Homo sapiens: one gene and its partners. The protein of the gene in region 1 purifies or fractionates together with the protein of each later gene. This does not show direct contact. Each region holds a gene or a part of one and is shown in the gene's direction. Other genes may lie near its edges. The genes, in order: MAP2K3, DIMT1, FBXL16, DCK, SLC25A3, PIGQ and CEP170.

Region 1 (3,500 bases):
TTGCTGTATTTAGACTGCACAGAACTGGTTGGATATTAGAGACCCTGCTCATGACTACCTCACACATACACACACCCTATGTCCCTTCCCCATCTCCCTGTCTCCCTTCCAGTTGTCCATCCATCATGATTGTTGGGGCCACCATGGCTAGTGGCCTTCTGATATGGCTGGTGGAACTTGGACAAGTGTGTGCTAAGTGTATATTTCAGTTATCAAATATTGCATAGCAAACCACCCTAGAACCTAGTGACCCAAACCAACAGCGGTTTCTTATTTCTCATGTTTCCACCACTGTGGCTGGGCTCAGCTGGATGGCTCTTCTGCTGTACCTGGGATTGGCTGGGGTCATGGCTGGGCTGGGCTGGTCTGGAAGGCCCAAGACGGCCTCACAAACATGGGCCTCCTCTGCCTGGCCTCTCCATGCAACTTACTCACATTGGCCTGCTCCCTGGGCTTCAGAGCATGGCAGTGTCAGCAGAGTTGGAGTTCTTTCATGATGGCTGGCATCTAAAAGGAAGTTCTCTGAAGTGCTAGGCCTGGAACTGGCACAGCATCACTTCTGCCTCATTGTGTTGGTCAGCGAGTCACAGGCCAGCCCAGGTTCAAGGGCAGGGAATGCTCCCGGCTTAATGGAGGATCAGCAGGTGCACACAGCGGGAGGCGGAGGTGGTCACTTTAGGCACAGGTTAGGTTTTTCTTTCACAAGTTACAAACGTAGTGGAAACCTAACATAAAAATAGAGGCACAGTAAGGGGAAAATGACTGTAGTTATTCTACCTAGAGACACCTCTTACCCCGTTTCAGTGCCAACATTGTGCATTATATTATATATATAATATTTTTATTACATATAATAAAATACGTTTTATTAAAATTTAGAGAAATACAAACAATATGTAATGCTTCTCTTTTTTTGTTGTTGAAACAGAGCCTCGCTCTGTCACCCATGCTGGAGCGCGGTGGTGCGATCTCGGCTTACTGCAACCTCCGCCTCCCAGGTTCAAGTGATTCTCCTGCCTCAGGCTCCCGAGTAGCTGGGACTACAGGCGTGCGCCACCATGCCTGGCTAATTTTTGTATTTTTAGTAGAGATGGGGTTTCACCATATTGGCTAGGCAGGTCTCAAACTCGTGATCCACCCACCTTGGCCTTCCAAAGTGCTGGGATTACAGGTGTGAGCCACTGCGCCTGGCCTCGTAATGCTTCTTTTTAAAAAACTTTTTAAAAAAAATTTTGTAGCATTACATGTTGTTCATATTTGTCTCTCTCTCTCTGTTTTTTTTGTTTTTTGTTTTTTTTGTTGTTTTTTTTTTTAGATGTAGTTTTGCTCTTGGTGCCCAGGCTGCAGTGCAGTGGTGCAATCTCGGCTCACCACAACCTCTGCCTCCTAGGTTCAAGTGATTCTCCTGCCTCACTCAATCTCCCAAGTAGCTGGGATTACAGGTGTGCACCACCACATCCAGCTAATTTTGTGTTTTTAGTAGAGATGGGGTTTCTCCATGTTGGTCAGACTGGTCTCGAACCCCCGACCTCAAGTGATCTGCCTGCCTCGGCCTCCCAAAGTGCTTGGATTATAGGTGTGAGCCACCGCACCTGGCCAATTTCTCTAAATTATAATAGACTCCTGTATGTATCCCTTCCAAAGACTCCATAACCATCTGCCACCATTCAGTCACCCTGTCTGCTGATGTGGGTTGTTTCCCTTGTTCCTGCTGTTTTCCTTCCATTTCAAATTCTCAGCCATCCTGGGGGAGCGACTGATGAAACAGAGTCGGGAGAGTCCCCCTGGGTGGGGCTCTGGCCTCGGCCTCCCCCCATCCTGCAAGGGCCCCAGAGCTCTCTTGGCGTTGGCTTTTTCCCACTCACTGCACAAGCCTCAGGATGCCAGTGGGAATCACCCAGAACAGACAGGGGTCATGCCGGGGATGGCCCTTGGCCAGGAGCAAGTGCTGACTGGGTGCTGGCCTGTTAGTGTTGTCGCTGGGGAGTCACAGGGGTGCGACTACGGTCCTGGCTGGGTCTCCGCCCCCATGGTGGGGCCGGCCCCTGGCGCTGGACATTCAGGCTGTTTCTTAGTATTTCCTGGCAGAAAACACCATATGGCACATCTTCGTGTCTGGAGGCTATTTTTGTTGTTTTTCATTTTTTGAGCTCTTTAGAAAAAATAAAGGAGTACGAGGTTGAAGGTTTGGACACTTCTGCTTTTCTAATTATAACTCTCATGGCCGCTGGTCCTTCTCCTGTAGCTCGTATGGGGTACTTGCTCTACATATTGCAGTCAGTGAAAATTCTAAGAGAAAAGCCCCCCAAATCGGTACGGTTTTGTCCTGTGAACACGCATGCACACATGCACACACACGCAGTGGGCCCTGCCTGTGTGGGTGTGTTTGTCTGAGCTGGAAAGGGCCTCTAGCCTGATGGGAGGCACAGTCTCAGCACAGTCCTTAGGGTCTTGTCCGGGCTCCAGTTGCCAGTGCCAAGTGTTTGTGCTGAGGTCTCTTCCGTTCATCATGGTGATGACGGCCGGCAGTGAGGGCCCTTGTGCTGGAGCCTCGGAATTCTCTGTTCTTCCAGGCCGGGGCCAGGGCTGACATAACTTGTTTTTTCCATCCAGTCATCATGATTGGAGCCCAGAGTTGGTTGTAAGCTAGCTAGTCCGTCCCTTCCATGATGACTTCCTGCCAACCACAGGGCTGGGAGCTTGGAGCGAGGACAGAGACCCACCGGCCCGATGTCACCCACAGGAAATCTGGATCCAGCAGGGCACATGTGGCCACACAGGCCACTTGTCTAGGAGGGAAACTGCTGGGGCCCTGCAGAAGATGAGGCTGCAGGCTCACGGGTGCAGAGGCGAAGCAGCCTCATGGTCTCACACTCTGTCCGCGGCCTTGGAGACAGCTGTGTGTGTGTGTGTGTGTGTGTGTGTGTGTGTGTGTGTGTGTGTAGCATTTCCCATGTGCCTCCTCTGTGAAAACAGCCCAAATTAATGACAGCAGATGCTGAAGTCTGAGATGGTCAGATGTTAGGAAGGGGATTGGCTGTGACCACCTGGGACCTGCCCACCTGGCTCATGAGGCTACGGCCCAAAGTTGCCAGCTCCTCAGATTTTTCCAGAGCAGCTGGAACCTGCATTGTTTTGTAAAATCTTCAGAATTCAGGTTTTCTGAAAACCCTATGATGGTCCCACCAGTCCCGGTGTGGGCTGAATCTGCTTCCTGAGCTGGGTCCTGCTGGCTGGGTCGGAGGAGCTAAGAGCTGGCATCCCCGGCTTTCTCGCCTTTGTTCTGCTGGGATGTGGTAGGGAGATCAGCTGTGCAGCTTTGACGCCTGGCTCTGGTACCAGGATGGGTGGGAGCCCCCAACCCTCGCTCCTGGGTGCAGAGCGTGGTTGTATCTGGGGCCGGGGCCTCTGACCCCCTGTCCCCGCTGCAGATTGAGATGGCCATCCTGCGGTTCCCTTACGAGTCCTGGGGGACCCCGTTCCAGCAGCTGAAGCAGGTG
Region 2 (3,500 bases), on another chromosome or scaffold:
AAACAAACTTTGTACTTGATAGATGCCAAAACTGTCATACCCTCTTTTCTGAAAGATTTTATGAAAAAACAAAACAAAAAACATTGTACTCAAATCAGCTGCAGATAAAAGCAGAGCTTCCAGTGGAAATTTTACATAACTGGGATCAAGATCCTGAAACATGGCTGGGTGGAGTGGCTCACACCTATAATCCTAGCACTCTGGGAGGCCGAGGCGGGCAGATCACTTGAGGTCAGGAGACCAGCCTGGCTAACATGGTGAAACCCCATCTCTACTAAAAATAAAAAAATTAGCTGGGCATTGTGGTGGGCACCTATAATCCCAGCTACTCGGGAGGCTGAGGCAGGGGAATCGCTTGAACTCAGGAGGCGGAGGTTGTAGTGAGCCAAGATTGTGCCACTGCACTCCACACTCCAGCCTGGGCAACAGAGCGAGATTGTCAAAAAAGAAAACAAGATCCTGAAACATTTCTTCAAAGAATTACAAAGAATTGTAATGGAGATGAAATATGGCTTTACCAGTGTGATCCTAAAGACAAAGCAGAGTGAAAGTGATGCCTACCAAGAAACGGAGTGGCTCCAGTCAAAGCAAAAGCAGACCAGTCAAGAGCAAAGGTCATAGCAACAGTTTTTTTTTGAATGCTCAGGGCATTTTGCTTGCTGACTTTCTTTAGGACCAAAGAATGAAAACATCTGCTTATTACAAGAGTGTTTTGAGAAAGTTAGCTAAGATGTAGCAGAGTAACTCCTGGGAAAGCTTCCCCAGAGATTCCTCCACCATAATACTTCTACTCCTTCCTCTCATCAGACGAGGGCAATTTTTCGAGAGTTTCAATGGGAAATGGTTAGGTATCCACCTTACAGTCCTGATTGGGCCCCTTCTGACTTCTTTTTATTTTATGAGACAGTCTTGCTCTGGTGCCCGGGCTGGAGAGCAGTGGTATGATCTGCACTCACTGCAGCCTCCACTTCCTGGGCTCAAGCATTCCTCCCACCTCAGCCTCCCAAGTAGCTGCGATTACGGGCATGTGCCACCACACCCAGCTAATTGTTGTATTTTTTTTAGAGATGGGTCTTGCCATGTTGCCCAGGCTGTCTCCCCCTCCTGAGCTCAAGTGATCTGCCCACCTCAGCCTCCCCAAATGCTGGGATTATTACAGGCATGAACCATGGTGCCCAGCCCTTCTGATTTATTTTCGTTTCCCAGTCTTAAAAAATCTTGAAAGGGCACTCTTTTTTCTTCAGTTAATAATGTAAAAAAAAAAAACCTGCAGTGACATGGCTAAATTCCCCAGAGCCTCAGTTTTTTTGATATAGACTAAAATGCTGGTATCATCACTTACAAAAGTGTCTTGAACTTGATGGAGCTTATGTTGAATAATAAAGTTTATGTTTTTTCTTTTTTTTCTTTTTCTGAGACAGGCTGGAGTACAGTGGTGACATCTCAGGTCACTGCAACCTCAGCCTCCCTGGGCTGGGCTCAGATGATTCTCCTACCTCAGCCTCTTGAGTAGCTGGGACTATGGGGGTGTACCAGCATGCCTAGCTAATTTTTGTGTTTTTTTTAGAGAAGGGGTCTCACCATGTTCAGCCCAGGCTGGTCTTGAACTCCTGAGCTCAAGCGATCTGTCCGCCTTGGCCTCCTAAAGTGCTGTGGATTATAGGTGTGTGCCGCCACACCAGCCTTATTTTATCTTTTAATTCAATATTTCCATGAACTTTGAAGTCACTTTCTATATTATATACTAGTGGCTTTCAAACTGCAAGTCAAAAACTAGTGGTTATAAAATTAATGAGTCATGACCATTCTTTTTTTTTGTAATCACATGGAATAGAATATATCACAGGGCATTGCATGTAGTCCAGGTGATTATGGTTTCATGAAACTTTTGTTTTGAAATACAATATAAACACATATACATACAGACATTTGTGGCTTGGCTTGCAATGCCAAATGTATTTTTAGTGTGACTCATTGTCAAAAGTTTGAATGTCAAAGTGTAGCTTTGAAGATACTCTTCTGTTCGTTAACCCCTACAAAGTCTTCCCCATTGCCTGCTGAATAAAAAGTCTACATCTTTTGGCTGGGTGTGGTGACTCATGCCTGTAATCCCAGCACTTTGGGAGGCTGAGGTGGGCGGATCACCTGAGGTCAGGAGTTCCAGACCAGCCTGGCCAACATGGTGAAACACTGTCTCTACTAAAAATAGAAAAATTGGCCAGGGGTGGTAGTGTGCGCCTGTAATCCCAGCTACTCGGGAGGCTGAGGAACGAGGATCACTTGAACCTGGGAGACGGAAGTTGTAGTGAGCCGAGATTGCGCCATTGCACTCCAGCCTGGGCGACAAGAGCGAAACTCCGTCTCAAAAAAAAAAAAAAAGTCTACATCTTTTAACCCGTCAAATCAAGGAAACATTGAACGTCACAATCTGCCTCTTCAGTCTCACCTCTTCCTTAAAGGTGTTTGCTACCCCATAAATATATTACTGCTACTGAAACAATTTTATTTCACTTTGTTTTCATAGAAGAGGTGATGGACTAGTGCTGATTTGAAACATCTCATCCAGTCATTAAAGGCTTATATTTGCAAGCTATCTTGCCATGAGGAGTACAGCAATTATAAAAACAAAGCCAGCTCTCTCATTCTGTGGCAATAAAAAAAAGGCTGAATGTGTTCTCCTACCTTATAATCAGCTGCCAATGCTTTGCTATTTCTCTCCCAAGAAAATTCATTGCAGTTAAAATTCATTTATAGTTGACAATGACCATTTTCCTTATTCCTTTCTGCTTTCTTTTCAGGTGTGCTATACTTATGTTTCAAAGAGAATTTGCCCTCCGACTGGTTGCAAAACCTGGAGATAAGTTATACTGCAGACTCTCAATTAATACACAGCTGTTGGCACGTGTGGACCATCTAATGAAAGTAAGTGAATTTTGTTTTCTTTCTCTTTTTTCTGAGATAGAATCTCACTCTGTCACCCAGGCTGCAGTGCAGTGGCTCACTGCGATCTCTGCCTCCCATACTCAAGCAATCTTCTCGAGTCCCGAGTAGCTGGGACTAGAGGTGTGCGTCACCACGCCTGACTAATTTTTTGGTATTTTTTGTAGACACAGAGTTTTGCTATGTTGCCCAGGTTGGTCTTGAACTCCTGGGCTCAATGATCCATCTGCCTTGGCCTCCCAAAGTGTTGGGATTACAGGTGTGAGCCAAAGCACCCAGCCAGTGATTTTTATTATTGAAATAATCTAGCTTAATTCATCCTTGAGCATCCAGTTGTGCCTTCTGTGAGGATAGCATATCTGGTTACTAAATAAAAGTTGCCTTTGTGAGTACTACTTAAATACTTTTTCATTAACAGGTGGGAAAGAATAACTTCAGACCACCGCCCAAGGTGGAATCCAGTGTTGTAAGGATAGAACCTAAGAATCCACCACCACCCATCAATTTTCAGGTGAGGTTAAAATACTAGCTCATTCAATAAAGGAAAAAAAAGTCCAGGC
Region 3 (3,500 bases), on another chromosome or scaffold:
TACAGACTGGAGGCCTGAGGAGGGTGCCCGGGACTGCTCCCACTCCACCCTGTGCGTGGATGTCGCTGGCCTGAAGATAACCTCCGCATGGCCTTCCTCAGCCAGCTCTGCCCGAACTTTGGCTTCACCACTTATCTGGCCATGACCTCGGGCAGGCAGTTTGCCCAGCCTTGGCCTCAGTTTCCTCATCTGTGCAGTGGGTACAGCTATCACAGCATCGTTCTCATTGGGCAGAAGATTAAAGCGACAGCTTGTGTCCAGGGCTAACCATGCTGGCACCACAGCACACCCTGGGAAGATGCCCGCCCTTTCTTTGCATGGATTCTTTTTTCTTTTTCTTTTCTTTTTTTCTTTTTCTTTCTTTCTTTCTTTTTTTTTTTTTTTTTTTGAGACAAAGTCTCACTCTGTTCCCCAGGCTGGAGTACAGTGGTGTGATCTCGGCTCGCTGCAACCTCCGCCTCCTGGATTCAAGTGATTCTCCTGCCTCAGCCTCCCAAGTAGCTGGGATTACAGGAGCCTGCCACCAAGCCCGGCTAATTTTTGTATTTTTAGTAGAGAAGGGGTTTCACCATGTTGGCCAGGTGGTCTCAAACCCCTGACCTTGTAATCCACCCACCTCAGCCTCCCAAAGTGCTAGAATTACAGGCATCAGCCACTGCACCCAGCCCCTTGGGTAGATTCTGAGCCAGGGAAGCTCCTGTGCATGTGGAGGGTGGCTGCAGAGTCAGCACCAGAGCCCCTCCTGAGCGCTGTGCAGTCACCCTGCAGGGGAGGGGCCAGAGGCCACCCCAGACCCTTCCCTTCAGTTCCCCTGGCCTGCCCAGAGGGGTGGGCCTGGTGGGTACCTACAGTGGACGGCACAGCAGAGAGGTCAAGAGAGCAGTCCTGGCCTCACCAGGTCCACCTCCATTTTCTTCTCTGTAAAATGGCCATCATGGTACCTAAGTGCTAAAAAGTGTCGGCGTTTCTTCGCCTCACTGGGCAAACAAAAAGGTTTCCGGTCAGGCACGGTGGCTCATTCCCATAATCCCAGGACTTTGGGAGGCTGAGGCGGGTGGATCACTTGAGGTCAGGAGTTTGAGACCAGCCTGACCAACATGGAGAAACCCCATCTCTACTAAAAATACAAAATTAGCCGGGTGTGGTGGTGGGCGCCCGAATTCCCAGCTACACGGGAGGCTGAGGCAGGAGAATCACTTGAACCTACGAGGCAGAGAGGTTGCGGGGAGCCAAGATCCTGTCTCTGCACTCCAGTCTGCGCTCCAGGCAACAAGAGTGAAACTGTTTCTTTTTTTTTTTTTTGAGACAGAGTCTTGCTCAGTTGCCCAGGCTGGAGTGCAGTGGCGCAATCTCGGCTCACTGCAAGCTCCGCCTCCCGGGTTCACGTCATTCTCCTGCTGCAGCCTCCCAAGTAGCTGGTACTACAGGCGCCTGCCACCATGCCCAGCTAATTTTTTGTATTTTTAGAAGAGATGGTGTTTCACTGTGTTAGCCAGGATGGTCTCGATCTCCTGACCTCATGATCCACCCGCCTCGGCCTCCCAAAGTGCTGGGATTACAGGCATGAGCCACCGCGCCCGGCCGGAACTCTGTTTCAAAAAGAAAAAAAACAAAAGAAAAAGAGGGTGTCCATGGGCAATGAAGGTTGGGCTCAGTGCATACCGTAGGTGCCCAGTGAGTGCTGCCAGTGGCCATGGTTGGCTTCCTGTTGCTGCTCACAGTCTGGGAGGGAGAAGCAGGCACTCCCATCCTCTCTGTCTGGTGGTTCTGGGAGCACCATAGGGACGCCCAAGGAGGGAAGGAGCCCCACTGCACCCGCCCCCAACCCCGGCCTTCCAGACTCAGCAACAGACTCACTCCCCCTCCCGGCCCTCATCCACAGAGCGTGCCAGGAAGATGTCGAGCCCGGGCATCGACGGCGACCCCAAGCCTCCATGCTTGCCTCGAAACGGTCTGGTGAAGCTGCCGGGCCAGCCCAACGGCCTGGGTGCGGCCAGCATCACCAAGGGCACGCCAGCCACCAAGAACCGCCCCTGCCAGCCACCACCCCCACCCACCCTCCCACCACCCAGCCTGGCTGCTCCACTGTCCCGGGCTGCCCTGGCTGGGGGCCCGTGCACCCCGGCAGGTGGACCAGCCTCAGCCTTGGCACCTGGGCACCCAGCGGAGCGGCCGCCGCTGGCCACGGACGAGAAGATCCTCAATGGGCTCTTCTGGTATTTCTCGGCCTGCGAGAAGTGTGTGCTGGCCCAGGTGTGCAAGGCCTGGCGGCGCGTGCTGTACCAGCCCAAGTTCTGGGCAGGCCTCACGCCGGTGCTGCATGCCAAGGAGCTCTACAACGTGCTGCCTGGTGGCGAGAAGGAGTTCGTGAACCTGCAGGGTTTTGCCGCCAGAGGCTTCGAGGGCTTCTGCCTGGTTGGCGTCTCCGACCTGGACATCTGTGAGTTCATTGACAACTATGCGCTCTCCAAGAAGGGTGTCAAAGCCATGAGCCTCAAGCGCTCCACCATCACGGACGCAGGCCTCGAGGTGTGCACCAGGCTCGGGGGGGACAGGGCTGGGGGGCAGGGGCGGGCAGCAGCAACCCTATGGAGGTGGGAGCGGATGGTGGCTTTGGGGTGGGAGGAAAGAAGGACTGACTACAGGGGACCTCGCGCAAAGCGAAAATGTGGGTCCCTTGTTCAAAGACACTCAAGATTTTCAAGATGGCAGCAGCAGGGCAGTGGATTAAATGCAGGGCCCAGGCCCGGTGGCTCAAGCCTGTCATCCCGGCACTATGGGAGGCCGAGGCAGGCCACTCACTTGAGGTTAGGCGTTCATGACCAGCCTGGTCAACATGGTGAAACTCTATTTCTATTAAAAATGCAGAAATTAGCCAGGCCTGGTGGTGGGCACCTGTAGTCCCAGCTACTTGGGAGGACACTGAGGCAGGAGAATCGCTTGAACCCGGGAGGCGGGGGGTACAGTGAGCTGAGATCATGCCACTGCACTCCAGCCTGGGACCTGGGCAACAGAGTAAGGCTCTGTCTCAAAATGATTGAATGAATGAATGAATAAATAAATAAATAAATAAATACAAATGCAGTGTGGGGAGGATGCGAGGGGGAGCTGAGGGGCAGCTGGGAAAGGATCCCCCAGGAGTAGAGGTCAGAGGAGCCGCCTGGCAGCCGGGTCTGGAGTCTAATTGTAACGCTGGTGCCAACGCCCCCAGCACCTGCCCTGGCCAGGCCCTGGGCTCTCGTCCCGATGCCCCGCCTCCTCACACACTGCCAAATGTTTTCAGGGTTCAGCTCCCTGCATGTTTACACCCTACTGCTTCCTCCCTGCGGGCTCCACCCCTTCTCCTGCAATCCTGACCCGGCGCCCGCCCGCCTGCAGGTTATGCTTGAACAGATGCAGGGCGTGGTGCGTCTGGAGCTGTCGGGCTGCAACGACTTCACCGAGGCCGGGCTGTGGTCCAGCCTGAGCGCGCGCATCACCTCGCTGAGCGTGAGTGACTG
Region 4 (3,500 bases), on another chromosome or scaffold:
TAAGCTGTGCGTAAACTATTTTGCAATTCCTCTATTTTTCCTAGAATTTGAACTTTACTTGGTCGTTTTAGTTTTATATTTATATAACCCATCTTCTTATGTTCTGTGTTACTCAAATGTTCCCTTATGTTAGATTGATGGAGGACTTACCTGCTTCTCATCTTAATAGTCTGTTCAGAATGACTTTCAGCATTATAATGCCTGCTTGGCATTAGGAATTCTGTTAGTTTCCATGACTTTTTAAAGTATTAACATCAGTGTCTTTGGTTCTTGTTCTCCTTTGCCTTCATAGAAAATTAATTTATTAATTAGCTTATTTTCTAGCTCCCACTTTGCCCCAATAAGTTAAGGAACTAGATGTGTTAGTGTGATTGGGAACTCTAGCTGTTATTACTCTGCTTGAACTAAATGTAACTGTTATTACTCTTAGACTTTTTAAGTATGACCATATGAATTTTTCTGCTTGTAAGCAGTGTCAGAAGAAAGTTGAATGCTGTAGCCTTAAGTGCTTTCAGACTCTGGTGGATGCCTAATTTTTTTATTTGTTCCTTGGGTGCTATTTCTGAACATCATGTTCTCCTTTCCCTCTTCCATCTAGCTCAGTGAATGTGGGGTGTTCTTTCTATATGCTTTCACTTCCACTTAACATTCTTCTAAATGCTGTACAGTCCCTAAGCTTACACTCTCCATACTAAATTTTGGTGGCCAGTGTTTTTACCATGATTAAATCTCACTGTTATCCAGTTTATCGTTAAAAGTTTTTCTCCTCTCCTCTGGATACAGTTTACTTTGTGTTTTTCTTCTAAACTGTCTACCTGTGTCACCTTCTTTACTGCCTCGCTCCTGTTTTTTCTCTGTGTGTAATTCTTTAAAGTTCTTCCAGGTTTTTCTTCTTTTCTATTGCCCTGTCTAATGTCCTAGATTTAAATATAGTTCTGCAAGTCAAAGGTAAGTTCTTTCTACTCCCCATGGATCTAATTTATAAGGAAGAGGAAGCTTTGCTTGTAAGTATATTGAAGTTATTTATATGTTCATCTGTGTGTGTGTGCACGCACACACAGGGAAAGAGAGAGAACATTATGCTAACCAGAGATGTCTAATACAACCACATTTGGTGACTTCAGATATAAAGGGTGTGGTGGCCATTAGGAGTATTACTTCTAGGTCAAGACTGTCCCTACTATTAAATATAATATATTGTTAAACTAAACGTAATAAAAAACAAATGTGCTTAATGAAATTGGGCAGGGAGCCTTTTCATTTTCTTCTAAAGAAATATGAAGAGAAAGTTTAGAAAGTTGAATGTTTTGGGCTTTTTATGTTGCTTGCTATTGTAAATCTTGCAAAAGCTAATGACTACTTGACATCTTTTTTTCCTGACAACTTTTCTTCCTCAATTTTATCTTTCCTCACAACAGCTGCAGGGAAGTCAACATTTGTGAATATCCTTAAACAATTGTGTGAAGATTGGGAAGTGGTTCCTGAACCTGTTGCCAGATGGTGCAATGTTCAAAGTACTCAAGATGAATTTGAGGTATGAAAATAAAATTTAAGTAGATAAAAGCCTCTTGGTTTAGAGGAGCAGTAGTACTTAATCTCTTTTTCTTTTTCTTTTTCAATAAAACTTTCAAATCTCGCTTTAGGTATATATCTTCATCTAGGTGGTGGTTACATGGATATATATACAGTTGGCTCTCCATATCAATGGGTTTCAGATTGATATGGATTCAACCAATCATGAATAGAAAATATTCAGAAAGAAATAATACAAAAAAATACAAATAATAAAGGATTACTGTTCATATAGCATTTACATTGTATTAAGTATTATAAGTAATCTAGAGATGATTTATACTATTTGGGAGGATATATGCAGATACTACACCATTTTACATAAAGGACTTGAGTATATGTGGATGTTGGTATCTGTGTGGAACCTGGAATCAATTCTTGAGGTTACTGAGGGGTGACTATATGTTTAAACATGCATTGAGGCCGGGGTTGGTGGCTCACGCTTGTAATCCCAGCACTTTGGGAGGCTGAGGCGGGCGGATCACTTGAGGTGAGGAGTTCAAGACCAGCCTCGTTAACATGGTGAAATGCCGTCTCTACTAAAAATACAAAACTTAGCTGAACGTGGTGGTGGGCACCTGAATTCCACCTGCTTGTAAAGCCGAGGTAGGAGAATTTCTTGAACCCAGGCAGCGGAGGTTGCAGTGAGCTGAGATGGCGCCACTGTGCTCCAGCCTGGGTGACAGAATGAGACACTGTCTCAACAAAAAAAAAAAAAGGAAAGTAAAATTTATCAAACTATGCATTCAAGATTTATGCACTTTAAGTAAAGTATAAAAGTTTTCTTTTTCATAAAAATTTCTTTTTTTGTTGTTATCCTTTAAGTTCTGGGATACATGTGCAGAACGTGCAGGTTTGTTATGTAGATATACACATGCCATGGTGGTTTGCTGCACCCGTCAACCCGTCATCTACATTAGGTATTTCTCCTAATGCTAACCCTTCCCTTGCCTCCTACCCCACCGACAGGCCCTGGTGTGTGATGTTCCCCTCCCTGTGCCCATGTGTTCTCATTGTTCAACTCCCACTTACAAGTTAGAACATGCGGTGTTTGGTTTCCTGTTCCTGTGTTAGCTTGCTGAGATTGATGGTTTCCAGCTTCATCCATGTCCCTGCAAAGGTTATGAACTCATTCTTTTATTATGGCTGCATAGTATTCTTTGGTGTATATGTGCCACATTTTGTTTATCCAGTCTATCATTGATGGGCATTTGGGTTGGTTCCAAGTCTTTGCTATTGTGAATAGCGCTGGAGTAAACATACATATGCATGTGTCTTTATGGTAGAATAATTTATAATCCTTTGGGTATATACCCAGTAATGGGATGGCTGGGTCAAATGGTATTTCTGGTTCTAGATCCTTGAGGAATCGCCACACTATCTTCCACAGTGGTTGAACTAATTTACACTCCCACTAACAGTGTAAAAGCATTCCTATTTCTCCACATCCTCTCCAGCATCTGTTGTTTCCTGACTTTTTAATGATCACCATTCTAACTGGTGTGAGATGGTATCTCATTGTGGGTTTGGTTTGCATTTCTCTAATGACTGGTGATGATGAGCTTTTTTTCATGTTTGTTGGCTGCATAAATGTCTTCTTTTGAAAAGTGTCTGTTCATATCATTTGCCCACTTTCTGATTGGGTTGTTTGTTTTTTTTTCTTGTAAATTTGTTTAAGTTCCTTGTAGATTTTGGATATTAGCCCTTTGTCTGATGGGTAGATTGCAAAAATTTTCTCCCATTTTGTAGGTTGCCTGTTTACTTGGATGATAGTTTCTTTTACTGTGCAGAAGCTCCTTAGTTTAATTAGATCCCATTTGTCAGTTTTGGCTTTTGTTAACACTGCTTTTGGTGTTTTAGTCATGAAGTCTTTGCTCATGCCTATGTCCTGAATGGTATTGCCTATGTTTTCTTCAGAGTTTTTATGA
Region 5 (3,500 bases), on another chromosome or scaffold:
AGTTATATCTATTATCTAGACAGTAGCTTTTAAAAAGTAGGAGGTGGGCCAAGCATGGTCGCCCACACCTGGAATGCCAGCATTTTGGGTAGCCGAAGCAGGTGGGTCACTTGAGGTCAGGAGTTCGAGATCAGAACTCAATCTAGCCAACATGGTGAAACCTCATCTCTGCTAAAAATACAAAAATTAGCTGGGCATGGTGGCGTGCCTGTAGTCGCAGCTACTCGGGAGGCTGAGGCAGGAGAATCGCTTGAACCTGGGAGGTGGAGGTTGCAGTGAGCTGAGATCACACCATGGCACTCCATCCTGGGCTACAGAGCAAGACTCAAAAAACAAACAAACAAAAAACACAAAAAAAGTAGTAGGAGTTGGGTGGTAAGAAATCTGTTAAGAATCAGTTTTGTTACGTATTTTTGTTGAAATTTTACCCTCTTAACTATCACTCCAAGACTTAAGTTTGACACAGAAAGCTTTTGTTGAAATTTTACCCTCTTAACTATCACTCCAAGACTTAGGTTTGACACAGAAAGCTAGACCTTAATGTACAACAGTTTCTATTTATAAAAGTAATCAAATGAACAATAATAAACAGTGATAAGCATAAACTAATAAAAGTTATATGAATGTAGTTCCTCACTCAAAATATCTTAATATTTTCAGATGTCAGTTGACCTTGGATAACTGAAGCCACAGAAAATGAACTCTTGGATAAGGGAGAGCTACTGTATTTCTTTTTTTTTTTTTGAGATGGAGTCTTGCTCTGCTGCCCAGGCTGGAGTGTAGTGGTGCCATCGTGGCTCACTGCAACCTCCACCTCCCTCCCTCAGGCTCAAGCGATTGTTCTGTCTCACCCTCACCCTCCCGAGTAGCTGGGATTACAGGTGCACGCCACCATGCCCGTCCAATTTTTTGTATTTTAGTAGAGATGGGGTTTCACTGTGTTGCCCAGGCTGGTCTTGAACTCCTGAGCTCAGGTAATCCACCTGCCTCAGCCTCCCAAAGTGCTGGGATTACAGATGTGAGCCACCGTGCCTGGCAGGAATTACTGTAGTTACCTTTTGTGTAGTTGCTGAAATTTATTATGGAACCCAAACAAAAATAATCATGAGATTAAATTTTTATGTTAGCTGTTTGGTGCATTTAATTTTTTTTTTCTTGTTTTAAATAAAGGTGGACCCCCAAAAGTACAAGGGCATATTTAACGGATTCTCAGTTACACTTAAAGAGGATGGTGTTCGTGGTTTGGCTAAAGGATGGGCTCCGACTTTCCTTGGCTACTCCATGCAGGGACTCTGCAAGTTTGGCTTTTATGAAGTCTTTAAAGTCTTGTATAGCAATATGCTTGGAGAGGTATGTAATTAACTTTAAAATTGAATGTTCCGAGTGTTTAAGACTTTCCGAGTGTTCTTAGATTTTTGTCTGTCTTGCCTTATTTTAGCACTGAAGAAAATGGTCCTACAAAGTGAGCAACTTGTTTTAAATCGTATGCCTGTGTCAGCAGAGACAGGTTGATAAATGTATTTCATTAAATTACAATTCTCCTTTTAATATACTATCTTGTTTTCTAAGTAAGTTGGATTTTGAGTTTTTTAGAGAAGGGCTCTGGGACTCCTTTGCGTAGTTCCGGGGCATGGCATCTAGATATTTTTTGAATATTCATGTTGTTCACATAGTTACGTGTTTTGTTAATGAGGTTATGAGACCACATATATATTCCATATCATCGTGTGTTACTTTATAAAATGTCTGAAGCTTAGTTGTTTTCTAGAACTGTCACTTCAATTGAAAACCAACACAACAGCAATTCACATCCCTTCCTTGTGTTTTGGATTTTAGGAGAATACTTATCTCTGGCGCACATCACTATATTTGGCTGCCTCTGCCAGTGCTGAATTCTTTGCTGACATTGCCCTGGCTCCTATGGAAGCTGCTAAGGTTCGAATTCAAACCCAGCCAGGTTATGCCAACACTTTGAGGGATGCAGCTCCCAAAATGTATAAGGAAGAAGGCCTAAAAGCGTAAGTAAACACTTAAAAATTTATACTATGAAAGTACTTATTTTAAGTGAACTTCATTTTTTTTTGTTTTTTTTTTTGTTTTGTTTTTTTGAGACAAAGTCTCGCTCTGTCACCCAGGCTGGAGTGCAGTGGCGTGATCTCGGCTCACTGCAAGCTCCGCCTCCCGGGTTCACGCCATTCTCCTGCCTCAGCCTCCCAAGTAGCTGGGACTACAGGCGCCTGCCACTGCGCCCAGCTAATTTTTTGTATTTTTCAGTATAGACGGAGTTTCACCGTCTCCATCTCCTGACCTCATGATCCGCCCACCTTGGCCTCCCAAAATGCTGGGATTACAGGTGTGAGCCACCGCACCCGGCTTCTTTTTTTTTTTTCTTTGAGACGGAGTTTTGCTCTTGTTGTCCAGGCTGGAGTGCAATGGCACTATCTCAGCTCACTGCAACCTCCGCCTCCCAGGTTCAAGTGATTGTCCTGCCTCAGCCTGCTGAATAGCTGGGATTACAGGCATGCACCACCACGCCTGGCTAATTTTGTATTTTTAGTAGAGACTCCATGTTGGTCAGGCTGGTCTCGAACTCCTGACCTCAGGTGATCCACCCGCCTCGGCCTCCCAAAGTGCTGGGATTACAGGCGTGAGACACCGCGTCTGGCTGTGAACTTCATTTTTTAGTATTAAGCCTACCAGACTTTTTAAAAAGACTATTATAACATTTAATGTCTATTTACCTGTATGTAGAACATAAACTTGAGAGGTAAAGATAAGTTAATACATGGTTTGAGCCCTGGACTGAGTTTTTTTTTTTTCCCTAGAGTAAGGACCATTTGTCGGTCTACAAATGACTTGATGTTTGGCCTAAACATTTACTATTAACTTTTAGGGAGGGCTTGTTAGTATCCTTGTGATCTATTCACAGTTAAGAATTTCCATGACCACAACATGCTTCCTTAGATCCACCTTTGTGGATGAATCTTGAACTGAGTTCCACTTGTAAACTTCTTGTTTCTTGTGGTTCCAGTAGTCAAAGAAACATCCAGCAACTTTTTTGGTTGTATAGTCAAAGGTGCTTGAGTCATTGGCATGTAAGAGAAATATACCTGCATGTTAGTCTAACGTTCTGATAGAAATGACATGCATTTATGCTGCCATTTGTTACTATCAGGACTCGACTCGTGTGCGGACATTTCTGTTAATAATGACAGTCTCTGATAGATGAGTGTATGCAACTGTGTAAAACAAGTCTCTTGATTTCCTAGATTCTACAAGGGGGTTGCTCCTCTCTGGATGAGACAGATACCATACACCATGATGAAGTTCGCCTGCTTTGAACGTACTGTTGAAGCACTGTACAAGTTTGTGGTTCCTAAGCCCCGCAGTGAATGTTCAAAGCCAGAGCAGCTGGTTGTAACATTTGTAGCAGGTTACATAGGTACGAATTACTTAGAACACACTTGTCTGAAATTATGAACAAATAATCATTTCCATTA
Region 6 (3,500 bases), on another chromosome or scaffold:
GGGGCTTTCTGTGTCTGAGGAAGGCGAGCGGCCCAGCCAGCCGGCCAGTAGTGCCCCCACCGCTAGGGAGTCCTCCTGCCCTGTGGGGCCCCGCCAGGGAAGGCATCAGTGGAGAAGGAGCCCCAGCTGGCTGCATGGCTCCGCAGGGGCCTGTGAGAAAGGGGGAGGAGAGGCCCAGGGCCTGGGAACCGCGGTAGCTCAGGTGGCTTCCTACTCAACAGCCACCTTGGAAGGCTGGTGTCCCTCAGCCTGAGAGTGCAGGATGCAGTTTCTCCACACCTCCGGGACCTGTAAGCCTCTCTCTCCCCGTTTCTAGGCACCCATGTCGTTGGAGAAATATATCCTGGAGAGAAAATGCTCCCTGAGGGAGCCCTGCCCTGGGGTGGCTGTGGGGATGTCAGGGAGGGCCAGGCACTGCCGGGTGCCACCGTGGGCGGGGGTCAGAGTGGAGGCCGAAGCCCTGTGTGCCCTGAGCAACGAGGCAGGTCCTTCCTGCCCCCAGGGAGGGGCTTGTGGGAGGCAGGGACCTTCTGGGGGGCTGCCCGCCGTGCGCACGAGGTAGTTTCCACAGCCCAGCAGCACATCATTTTACATTTTCATCTTTATTCTTGCTTAATACGTGAATCATGGTTTGTCAAGGTTTCAATTGGCGTGACCTTGCTAATGAGATTGTACAGTTCTCCTCGTGCTACACCTTTAAGCACACCTCTCTAATCAGGTTTCTTAAAACTAAGAAGCCTGGAGTTCGGTTCGGCCCCACAGCCGCGTCAGGTGGTGCCGAGGAGGCCGTGCCCTGGGCCGGCCTGGAAATGGGAGGGCAGGCCTGGTGGCTGCATGTGCGTCCTGCCTCGTGCGGGTGGGGCTGAGCTGGGCCTGGGGTGGACTTGGGGCCAGCACTCTGGCTGCCCCTTGGAGAAGCATGGCCCACGCGAGGCGGCAGCCAAGGAGCCCTACGGCGTCCACCACCGAACTTGAAGCTGAGGTGCCCCGACCTGGGGCCCTGTGGCTGCACCTGTCAGGCCGTCTGTGCAACATCCCGCAGCCCACGGTGGGGGGGCAGCAGCAGCTCTGAGCCGAGCCTCTCCTCTTCTCTTCCAGCCTCCCGGCATGGTGCTCAAGGCCTTCTTCCCCACGTGCTGCGTCTCGACGGACAGCGGGCTGCTGGTGGGACGGTGGGTGCCGGAGCAGAGCAGCGCCGTGGTCCTGGCGGTCCTGCACTTTCCCTTCATCCCCATCCAGGTCAAGCAGCTCCTGGCCCAGGTGCGGCAGGCCAGCCAGGTGGGCGTGGCCGTGCTGGGCACCTGGTGCCACTGCCGGCAGGAGCCCGAGGAGAGCCTGGGCCGCTTCCTGGAGAGCCTGGGTGCTGTCTTCCCCCATGAGCCCTGGCTGCGGCTGTGCCGGGAGAGAGGCGGCACGTTCTGGAGCTGCGAGGCCACCCACCGGCAAGCGCCCACTGCCCCCGGTGCCCCTGGTGAGGACCAGGTCATGCTCATCTTCTATGACCAGCGCCAGGTGTTGCTGTCACAGCTACACCTGCCCACCGTCCTGCCCGACCGCCAGGCTGGAGCCACCACTGCCAGCACGGGGGGCCTGGCTGCCGTCTTCGACACGGTAGCACGCAGTGAGGTGCTCTTCCGCAGTGACCGCTTTGATGAGGGCCCCGTGCGGCTGAGCCACTGGCAGTCGGAGGGCGTGGAGGCCAGCATCCTCGCGGAGCTGGCCAGGCGAGCCTCGGGACCCATTTGCCTGCTGTTGGCCAGCCTGCTGTCGCTGGTCTCAGCTGTCAGTGCCTGCCGGTAGGTGTCCCGGGACAGGCAGGTGGCAAAGAGTGGGGTCCCATGAGTGCTGGCCCATCCCTTTGTCTGCAGTGGGCACAGAGGCCCAGATGCGCTCTTCCTGGGCCCGGGCCCCCTCCCACTCCTGCAGCCCGGGCTTTGGCCCCATCCTGCTCTCCCAACCCTCGCCTCTCAGAGGGTGTCCCTCACCCCTGGGGTAGAGCCAGGTCTCTGGGCAGCCTCAGGGATTGCCAGGGGCCCTCCCAGAAGGTGTAGAGGGTGAACCTCAGTGGCTTAGGTCCCTGAAAGAGAAATCAGAAGGTGAGCACAGACATGACTACTGCTGCCTGGGGGTGCTCCTGAGGGCACACAGGCCCGCTGGCCTCCCTGTAGCCCTGCCTGTGCCCCCAGCAGGCCTCTGGACACTGCAGCGCTCATGGGCTGTGGGGGTGTCATCCACTTGCTGGCCCCGTGTGCCTGGGGGAGTGGTCTACAGGCCCTGCTTCTCTCCACAATCACAGGTGCTGCTGGCCAAGGGTCAGTTGAAGCCCAAGGGCCCTGAGGGGCACGGGGGTAGCCCCGAGCTGTGGCTGAGAACAGAGGGCCCCCTTCCACAGGGGACCTCATCTGCCTGGCGGAGGTGCCCCATGGGGAGCAGCTAGGGGTCACCTGCAGTTGCCCCCTGCCTTAGACCCGGGGGTGCATACTCTGGAAGCCTGGGGTGAGAAGCTAGGCCAGCCCAGGAGACCCCGGGCAGCTTTCTGGGCCCTGTCGGCGGGGCGAGGCCCTGGGCCCGTGGGAGTTGCTGCTGGCTGGCAGGCGCTTCTTGGCACCGGCTCTGGGAGCATGTGGTGACCAGGTGGCCCGGGGTCAGCACCTGCGAGGAGGCCAGGCTCCGTGTTAGTCACGTGCACTGTGAGGTGGGCGCGTTGAGCGCTGCCTACCACCACCTGGGCCACCGAGGGCCCCTCCCACCTGCCCCCTGTCCTGCTGAGCTCAGGAGTGTGGCCTGGGTGTTTGTGGTCCCCTGCACAGTGGGGGACGGTGGGAGGAGGATCTGGAGAGGGACACATCACTCCTCTCCACTCCCACGCAGAGTGTTCAAGCTCTGGCCCCTGTCCTTCCTCGGGAGCAAACTCTCCACGTGCGAACAGCTCCGGCACCGGCTGGAGCACCTCACGCTAATCTTCAGTACACGGAAGGCGGAGAACCCTGCCCAGCTGATGAGGTGTGGGCCTGCCCTGGTCTCTGCAGGGCTGGGTGCGTGCCCTCTGGCCCCTTCTCCATCCCCCTCTGCACCACGCTGACCCCTCCGGCCAGGCAGGCCTCCTCCTGCGGCCCCAGGCTGTGCTGGCCACCCTCATGCCGGCCGGGCCGGACCTCCCTTCCAGGAAGGCCAACACGGTGGCCTCTGTGCTGCTGGACGTGGCCCTGGGCCTCATGCTGCTGTCCTGGCTCCACGGGAGAAGCCGCATCGGGCATCTGGCCGACGCCCTCGTTCCTGTGGCTGACGTGAGTGGACTGGGGTGGAGCCCGGTGTCCCGGGTGGGCGTGGGGACCCCTCCTGGGCAGCAGAGCCTTCCCGGGCCAGAGCCACCGCCCCACAAAGCCAGTTCTACCTTCTCCATGCTCTGGAGACACGGCCCTCCCCTGAACCAGAAGCAGGAACTCCAGGGGCGCTGGGGCCTGGGCAGGGCAGGCCTCGCAGGTACACCCCCCTTTCCT
Region 7 (3,500 bases), on another chromosome or scaffold:
GATAAGAGGGCATTACTGTATTGTAAATTATAAATATTAAAGTTTTGAGGTCATAACATCATTTACATTTGTTTTATATTTTGTTTTCAATAAAGAATAAGATAAACAGTAAAGAATTTATGCATGTATTAATAAGCATTCAATTGGAGCTCATACACATGAATTAATTGGTACTGTTGGCTTAGTATTTTAATTCTCAGTTTATGCGGTGGTTGGTTTTTTTTCTTTGTGTACCTTTGAAAAGATACATTGCTTTGGTATTATTAACAAAAAAGTAATAGGTTTTTAAAATATAAAAAGTTATATGCTTATGTTTTTTGATTTATAGAATATTATTTAAAGACAAAGATCGGAATTGGGATGACATAGAAAGCAAATTAAGAGCCGAAAGTGAAGTCCCTATTGTGAAAACCTCAAGCATGGTATAGTAATTTTTCTTGAAGATTAAAACATTTTAATAGAGTTTTATTTTAAGGAAAAGACCCTTATTTTTGAGCTGTTCGTTGATTTGCTTTTTCAAAAGAAGATATAAATGCAAAATTTTGGGAAATTTTATTTCTTCTACTGACTCACAGGTTTAAAATGTTGATTGTTTCAAAGTTGCAGAGGGTATGAAGGAGGAGCCTTTTGTGTTTCTTACTAGTATAGATTGTTCTTGTAATAATTAAACATTAGAAACATGAAATTTTTAAAGAGAACCAAATCTAACATGAAAATATTAAGTTGACATAAGTCGTTTCCGTTTACTTAATATAATGCTTATCTTCTTTTTAAAAGAATTTGTACAGATTTTCATTGCTCAGAATATAATTATAATATTGAGGTTGCAGTTTATATGTTTTTACAAAGATAATTTGAAGGCATTTTTACATAGTTATTGCAAGGTTGATTAATAAGAATTTTAAAAATCTTTGCGGCCGGGTACTGTGGCTCACGCCTATAATCCCAGCACTTTGTGAGGCCAAGGAGGGCGGATCACTTGAGGTCAGGAGTTGAAGACCAGCCTGGCCAATATGGCGAAACTCTGTCTTTACTAAAAATACAAAAATTAGCCAGGCATTGTGGCGGGCGCCTATCATCCCAACTCCTTTGGGGGCTGAGGCAAGAGAATTACTTGAACCTGGGAGGAGGAGGTTACAGTGAGCCAAGATTGCGCCATTGCACTCCAGTCTGGGCGACAGAGTGAGACTCGGTCTCAAAAAAAAAAAATCTTTGCTTAAATAGTAGTAAATGTTAAACTTTTCATCTGCTACAATCATCTCACTGAAAAAGTTATTGTATTTCATTTTAGTTTAAATATTTTAATTTGAATCTTGTTTGCTAGATATCATAATTATTTCATATCATGTTGCTATTAATGTAGTAAGTACCATGTAGATAATATTAAGTGTTCCAAATAAAGTGAGAGTGAAATTCATTGCTTGTAAAGTGATAACATTTAGCTAAAAGTAGGCTAATTTTTGTTATTGCTTTCCCTGCAGGAGATTTCTTCTATCTTACAGGAACTGAAAAGAGTAGAAAAGCAGCTGCAAGGTAAATTTACTACTGAATTAAGTATAAAGAGCTAATAATTTAGAATAAGTGCCTTCTGAGTGGTATTTCTTAAAATATTGTTAGGATGTTATTTGATTAAATGTAATGACATACATAAAATACAGAGTTCAAACATTCACATTATTCATAAAAAGGAATTTTTTTAAACCCAGTATAAAAATTTAAAATGTAATAAAGATATATGTTGGGCATATTTTAGTTCATAGGTTTGACAGTAGGCTAGATGTCATAAACTAATTGAAATTTTTTATGTATTACATATAAATAATATGTGAAAAATATATAATAAAGTTGTGTTAATTAGCATTATTTGTGTGATTTGACAGTTCTTAAATTATGTTGGTGGTGTAACCTGAAACAAACTTACATTCTAATAGAAATAATAGTTGTTTGGTTGACAAGAAATGAGTACATATTGGCCATAGAGACCAGAAGAGAAAGGAGAGAAGAAAGTGAAAGAGGCTGCCCTCTAAACTTGTCAGAGCTGGGCTGTGCATTAATGCCTATGTATGTCTTGACCCAGAAGTCCCCAGTGGTACAACAGGCAGGTTCCATAGTCAACTGCTAATTCTACTGAGTCTTTATCTATCGAATAATCATAGGTACTTATGTGGATCCTATCAAAATGATTTTTCATCTTTATTTAGCCCCAACACACCTAAGGGTTATGGTACACCCCATGAGTAAAAGTGGCTTGCTAACACAGTGCTTGTTAGCTGGTAGACTGGGGGTATACTTTTAAAAGTCCCTTCTACATGATTCTTACATCTATGTTACTTCCTTCTCCCAACTCCCTACTCTGCCCAATGCCAAATTGAAAATCACCGCCTGAGAACTTTCCATGTCAACCCAAAGATCTTTTGGACTGAAAGCTGACCTTTAACTGACCCCTTCCATATAGGCAGCAAGTCTGTTTGGCTTTGCAAGCTGCCCTGTGATATTAGTCTGTAGGCTCTGAGGGAACCCCTGTATCTCAGTGGTGTATACAGCTGATAACCCTAGCACTCTGGCCAGGCTAAATGACCGTATTCTATGGTAGCATTCAAAGTATGCTGATGTTCTTCTGGCCTCTCCAGCCTTGAGGTTACTCTGAACCCTGACTTAGCAGCTAATACCTCAGTTATCTGAGTGATGTGGGTTTAGATGTTTATTAAAAATCATATTCAGTATTTTCTCGGTCCTCTCACAATAATGAAGACAAATTTCAACAAGATTTTTCTTGAATTCCACATCTTCAAATACCAGACTTACAAGTCTCTGAAATGCCCGTAAGTGCCACATCAAAGGACCCAGAGAAAGTATTCAGGGCTGGGTGATTTACAGTACAGCTACAGAATAACTAAGAATGGAGTTTTAAATATAATATTGGAAGATTAGCCACATTTAAGATCACATACGCACTGATAGTTTAAATATTATCCAAATCATGAACAGTGTTTATATGTGAATGTAACTGCATCTAAAATTATTTCCTTTTCCCGCCCTTTAGCAATCAATGCTATGATTGATCCTGATGGAACTTTGGAGGCTCTGAACAACATGGGATTTCCCAGTGCTATGTTGCCATCTCCACCGAAACAGAAGTCCAGCCCTGTGAATAACCACCACAGCCCGGGTCAGACACCAACACTTGGCCAACCAGAAGCTAGGGCTCTTCATCCTGCTGCTGTTTCAGCCGCAGCTGAATTTGAGAATGCTGAATCTGAGGCTGATTTCAGTATACATTTCAATAGATTCAACCCCGATGGGGAAGAGGAAGATGTTACAGTACAAGAATGACTTTCTCTTGATTGTTGAAAAATCATTACCTGTGGAATGGCTAGGAATATTGGAAGCAGCATAGTGTTGATGTACGCAAAACAAGACAGCTTGGTCAGCTACAATCTTGGAATCCCTGTCTTCTTAATTTTATTTATTTATTTTTGACGTATAATGTAGTATATCAA

What was found.
Region 2: the proteins of MAP2K3 (region 1) and DIMT1 purify together in Homo sapiens (affinity purification with mass spectrometry, with the first as the bait; one large-scale study listed by BioGRID). This does not show direct contact.
Region 3: the proteins of MAP2K3 (region 1) and FBXL16 purify together in Homo sapiens (co-immunoprecipitation; one large-scale study listed by IntAct). This does not show direct contact.
Region 4: the proteins of MAP2K3 (region 1) and DCK purify together in Homo sapiens (affinity purification with mass spectrometry, with the first as the bait; one large-scale study listed by BioGRID). This does not show direct contact.
Region 5: the proteins of MAP2K3 (region 1) and SLC25A3 purify together in Homo sapiens (affinity purification with mass spectrometry; one large-scale study listed by BioGRID and IntAct). This does not show direct contact.
Region 6: the proteins of MAP2K3 (region 1) and PIGQ purify together in Homo sapiens (affinity purification with mass spectrometry, with the first as the bait; one large-scale study listed by BioGRID). This does not show direct contact.
Region 7: the proteins of MAP2K3 (region 1) and CEP170 purify together in Homo sapiens (affinity purification with mass spectrometry, with the first as the bait; one large-scale study listed by BioGRID). This does not show direct contact.

The regions. Positions count from the first base shown.
Region 1 is NC_000017.11:21,308,711-21,312,210, forward strand, and holds part of MAP2K3 (dual specificity mitogen-activated protein kinase kinase 3), read left to right. Parts: intron 1-3,431; coding exon 3,432-3,500. UniProt on the Homo sapiens protein: Dual specificity kinase. Is activated by cytokines and environmental stress in vivo. Catalyzes the concomitant phosphorylation of a threonine and a tyrosine residue in the MAP kinase p38.
Region 2 is NC_000005.10:62,393,906-62,397,405, reverse strand, and holds part of DIMT1 (dimethyladenosine transferase), read left to right. Parts: intron 1-2,798; coding exon 2,799-2,922; intron 2,923-3,358; coding exon 3,359-3,451; intron 3,452-3,500. UniProt on the Homo sapiens protein: Specifically dimethylates two adjacent adenosines in the loop of a conserved hairpin near the 3'-end of 18S rRNA in the 40S particle.
Region 3 is NC_000016.10:695,802-699,301, reverse strand, and holds part of FBXL16 (F-box/LRR-repeat protein 16), read left to right. Parts: intron 1-1,882; 5' UTR 1,883-1,896; coding exon 1,897-2,529; intron 2,530-3,378; coding exon 3,379-3,500. UniProt on the Homo sapiens protein: Substrate-recognition component of the SCF (SKP1-CUL1-F-box protein)-type E3 ubiquitin ligase complex.
Region 4 is NC_000004.12:70,996,649-71,000,148, forward strand, and holds part of DCK (deoxycytidine kinase), read left to right. Parts: intron 1-1,418; coding exon 1,419-1,534; intron 1,535-3,500. UniProt on the Homo sapiens protein: Phosphorylates the deoxyribonucleosides deoxycytidine, deoxyguanosine and deoxyadenosine. Has broad substrate specificity, and does not display selectivity based on the chirality of the substrate.
Region 5 is NC_000012.12:98,596,686-98,600,185, forward strand, and holds part of SLC25A3 (solute carrier family 25 member 3 isoform b precursor), read left to right. Parts: intron 1-1,170; coding exon 1,171-1,350; intron 1,351-1,836; coding exon 1,837-2,018; intron 2,019-2,949; exon of another isoform or gene 2,950-3,199; intron 3,200-3,269; coding exon 3,270-3,442; intron 3,443-3,500. UniProt on the Homo sapiens protein: Inorganic ion transporter that transports phosphate or copper ions across the mitochondrial inner membrane into the matrix compartment. Mediates proton-coupled symport of phosphate ions necessary for mitochondrial oxidative phosphorylation of ADP to ATP.
Region 6 is NC_000016.10:572,968-576,467, forward strand, and holds part of PIGQ (phosphatidylinositol N-acetylglucosaminyltransferase subunit Q), read left to right. Parts: intron 1-1,098; 5' UTR 1,099-1,107; coding exon 1,108-1,796; intron 1,797-2,871; coding exon 2,872-3,003; intron 3,004-3,166; coding exon 3,167-3,287; intron 3,288-3,500. UniProt on the Homo sapiens protein: Part of the glycosylphosphatidylinositol-N-acetylglucosaminyltransferase (GPI-GnT) complex that catalyzes the transfer of N-acetylglucosamine from UDP-N-acetylglucosamine to phosphatidylinositol and participates in the first step of GPI biosynthesis.
Region 7 is NC_000001.11:243,126,282-243,129,781, reverse strand, and holds part of CEP170 (centrosomal protein of 170 kDa), read left to right. Parts: intron 1-328; coding exon 329-422; intron 423-1,481; coding exon 1,482-1,533; intron 1,534-3,043; coding exon 3,044-3,333; 3' UTR 3,334-3,500.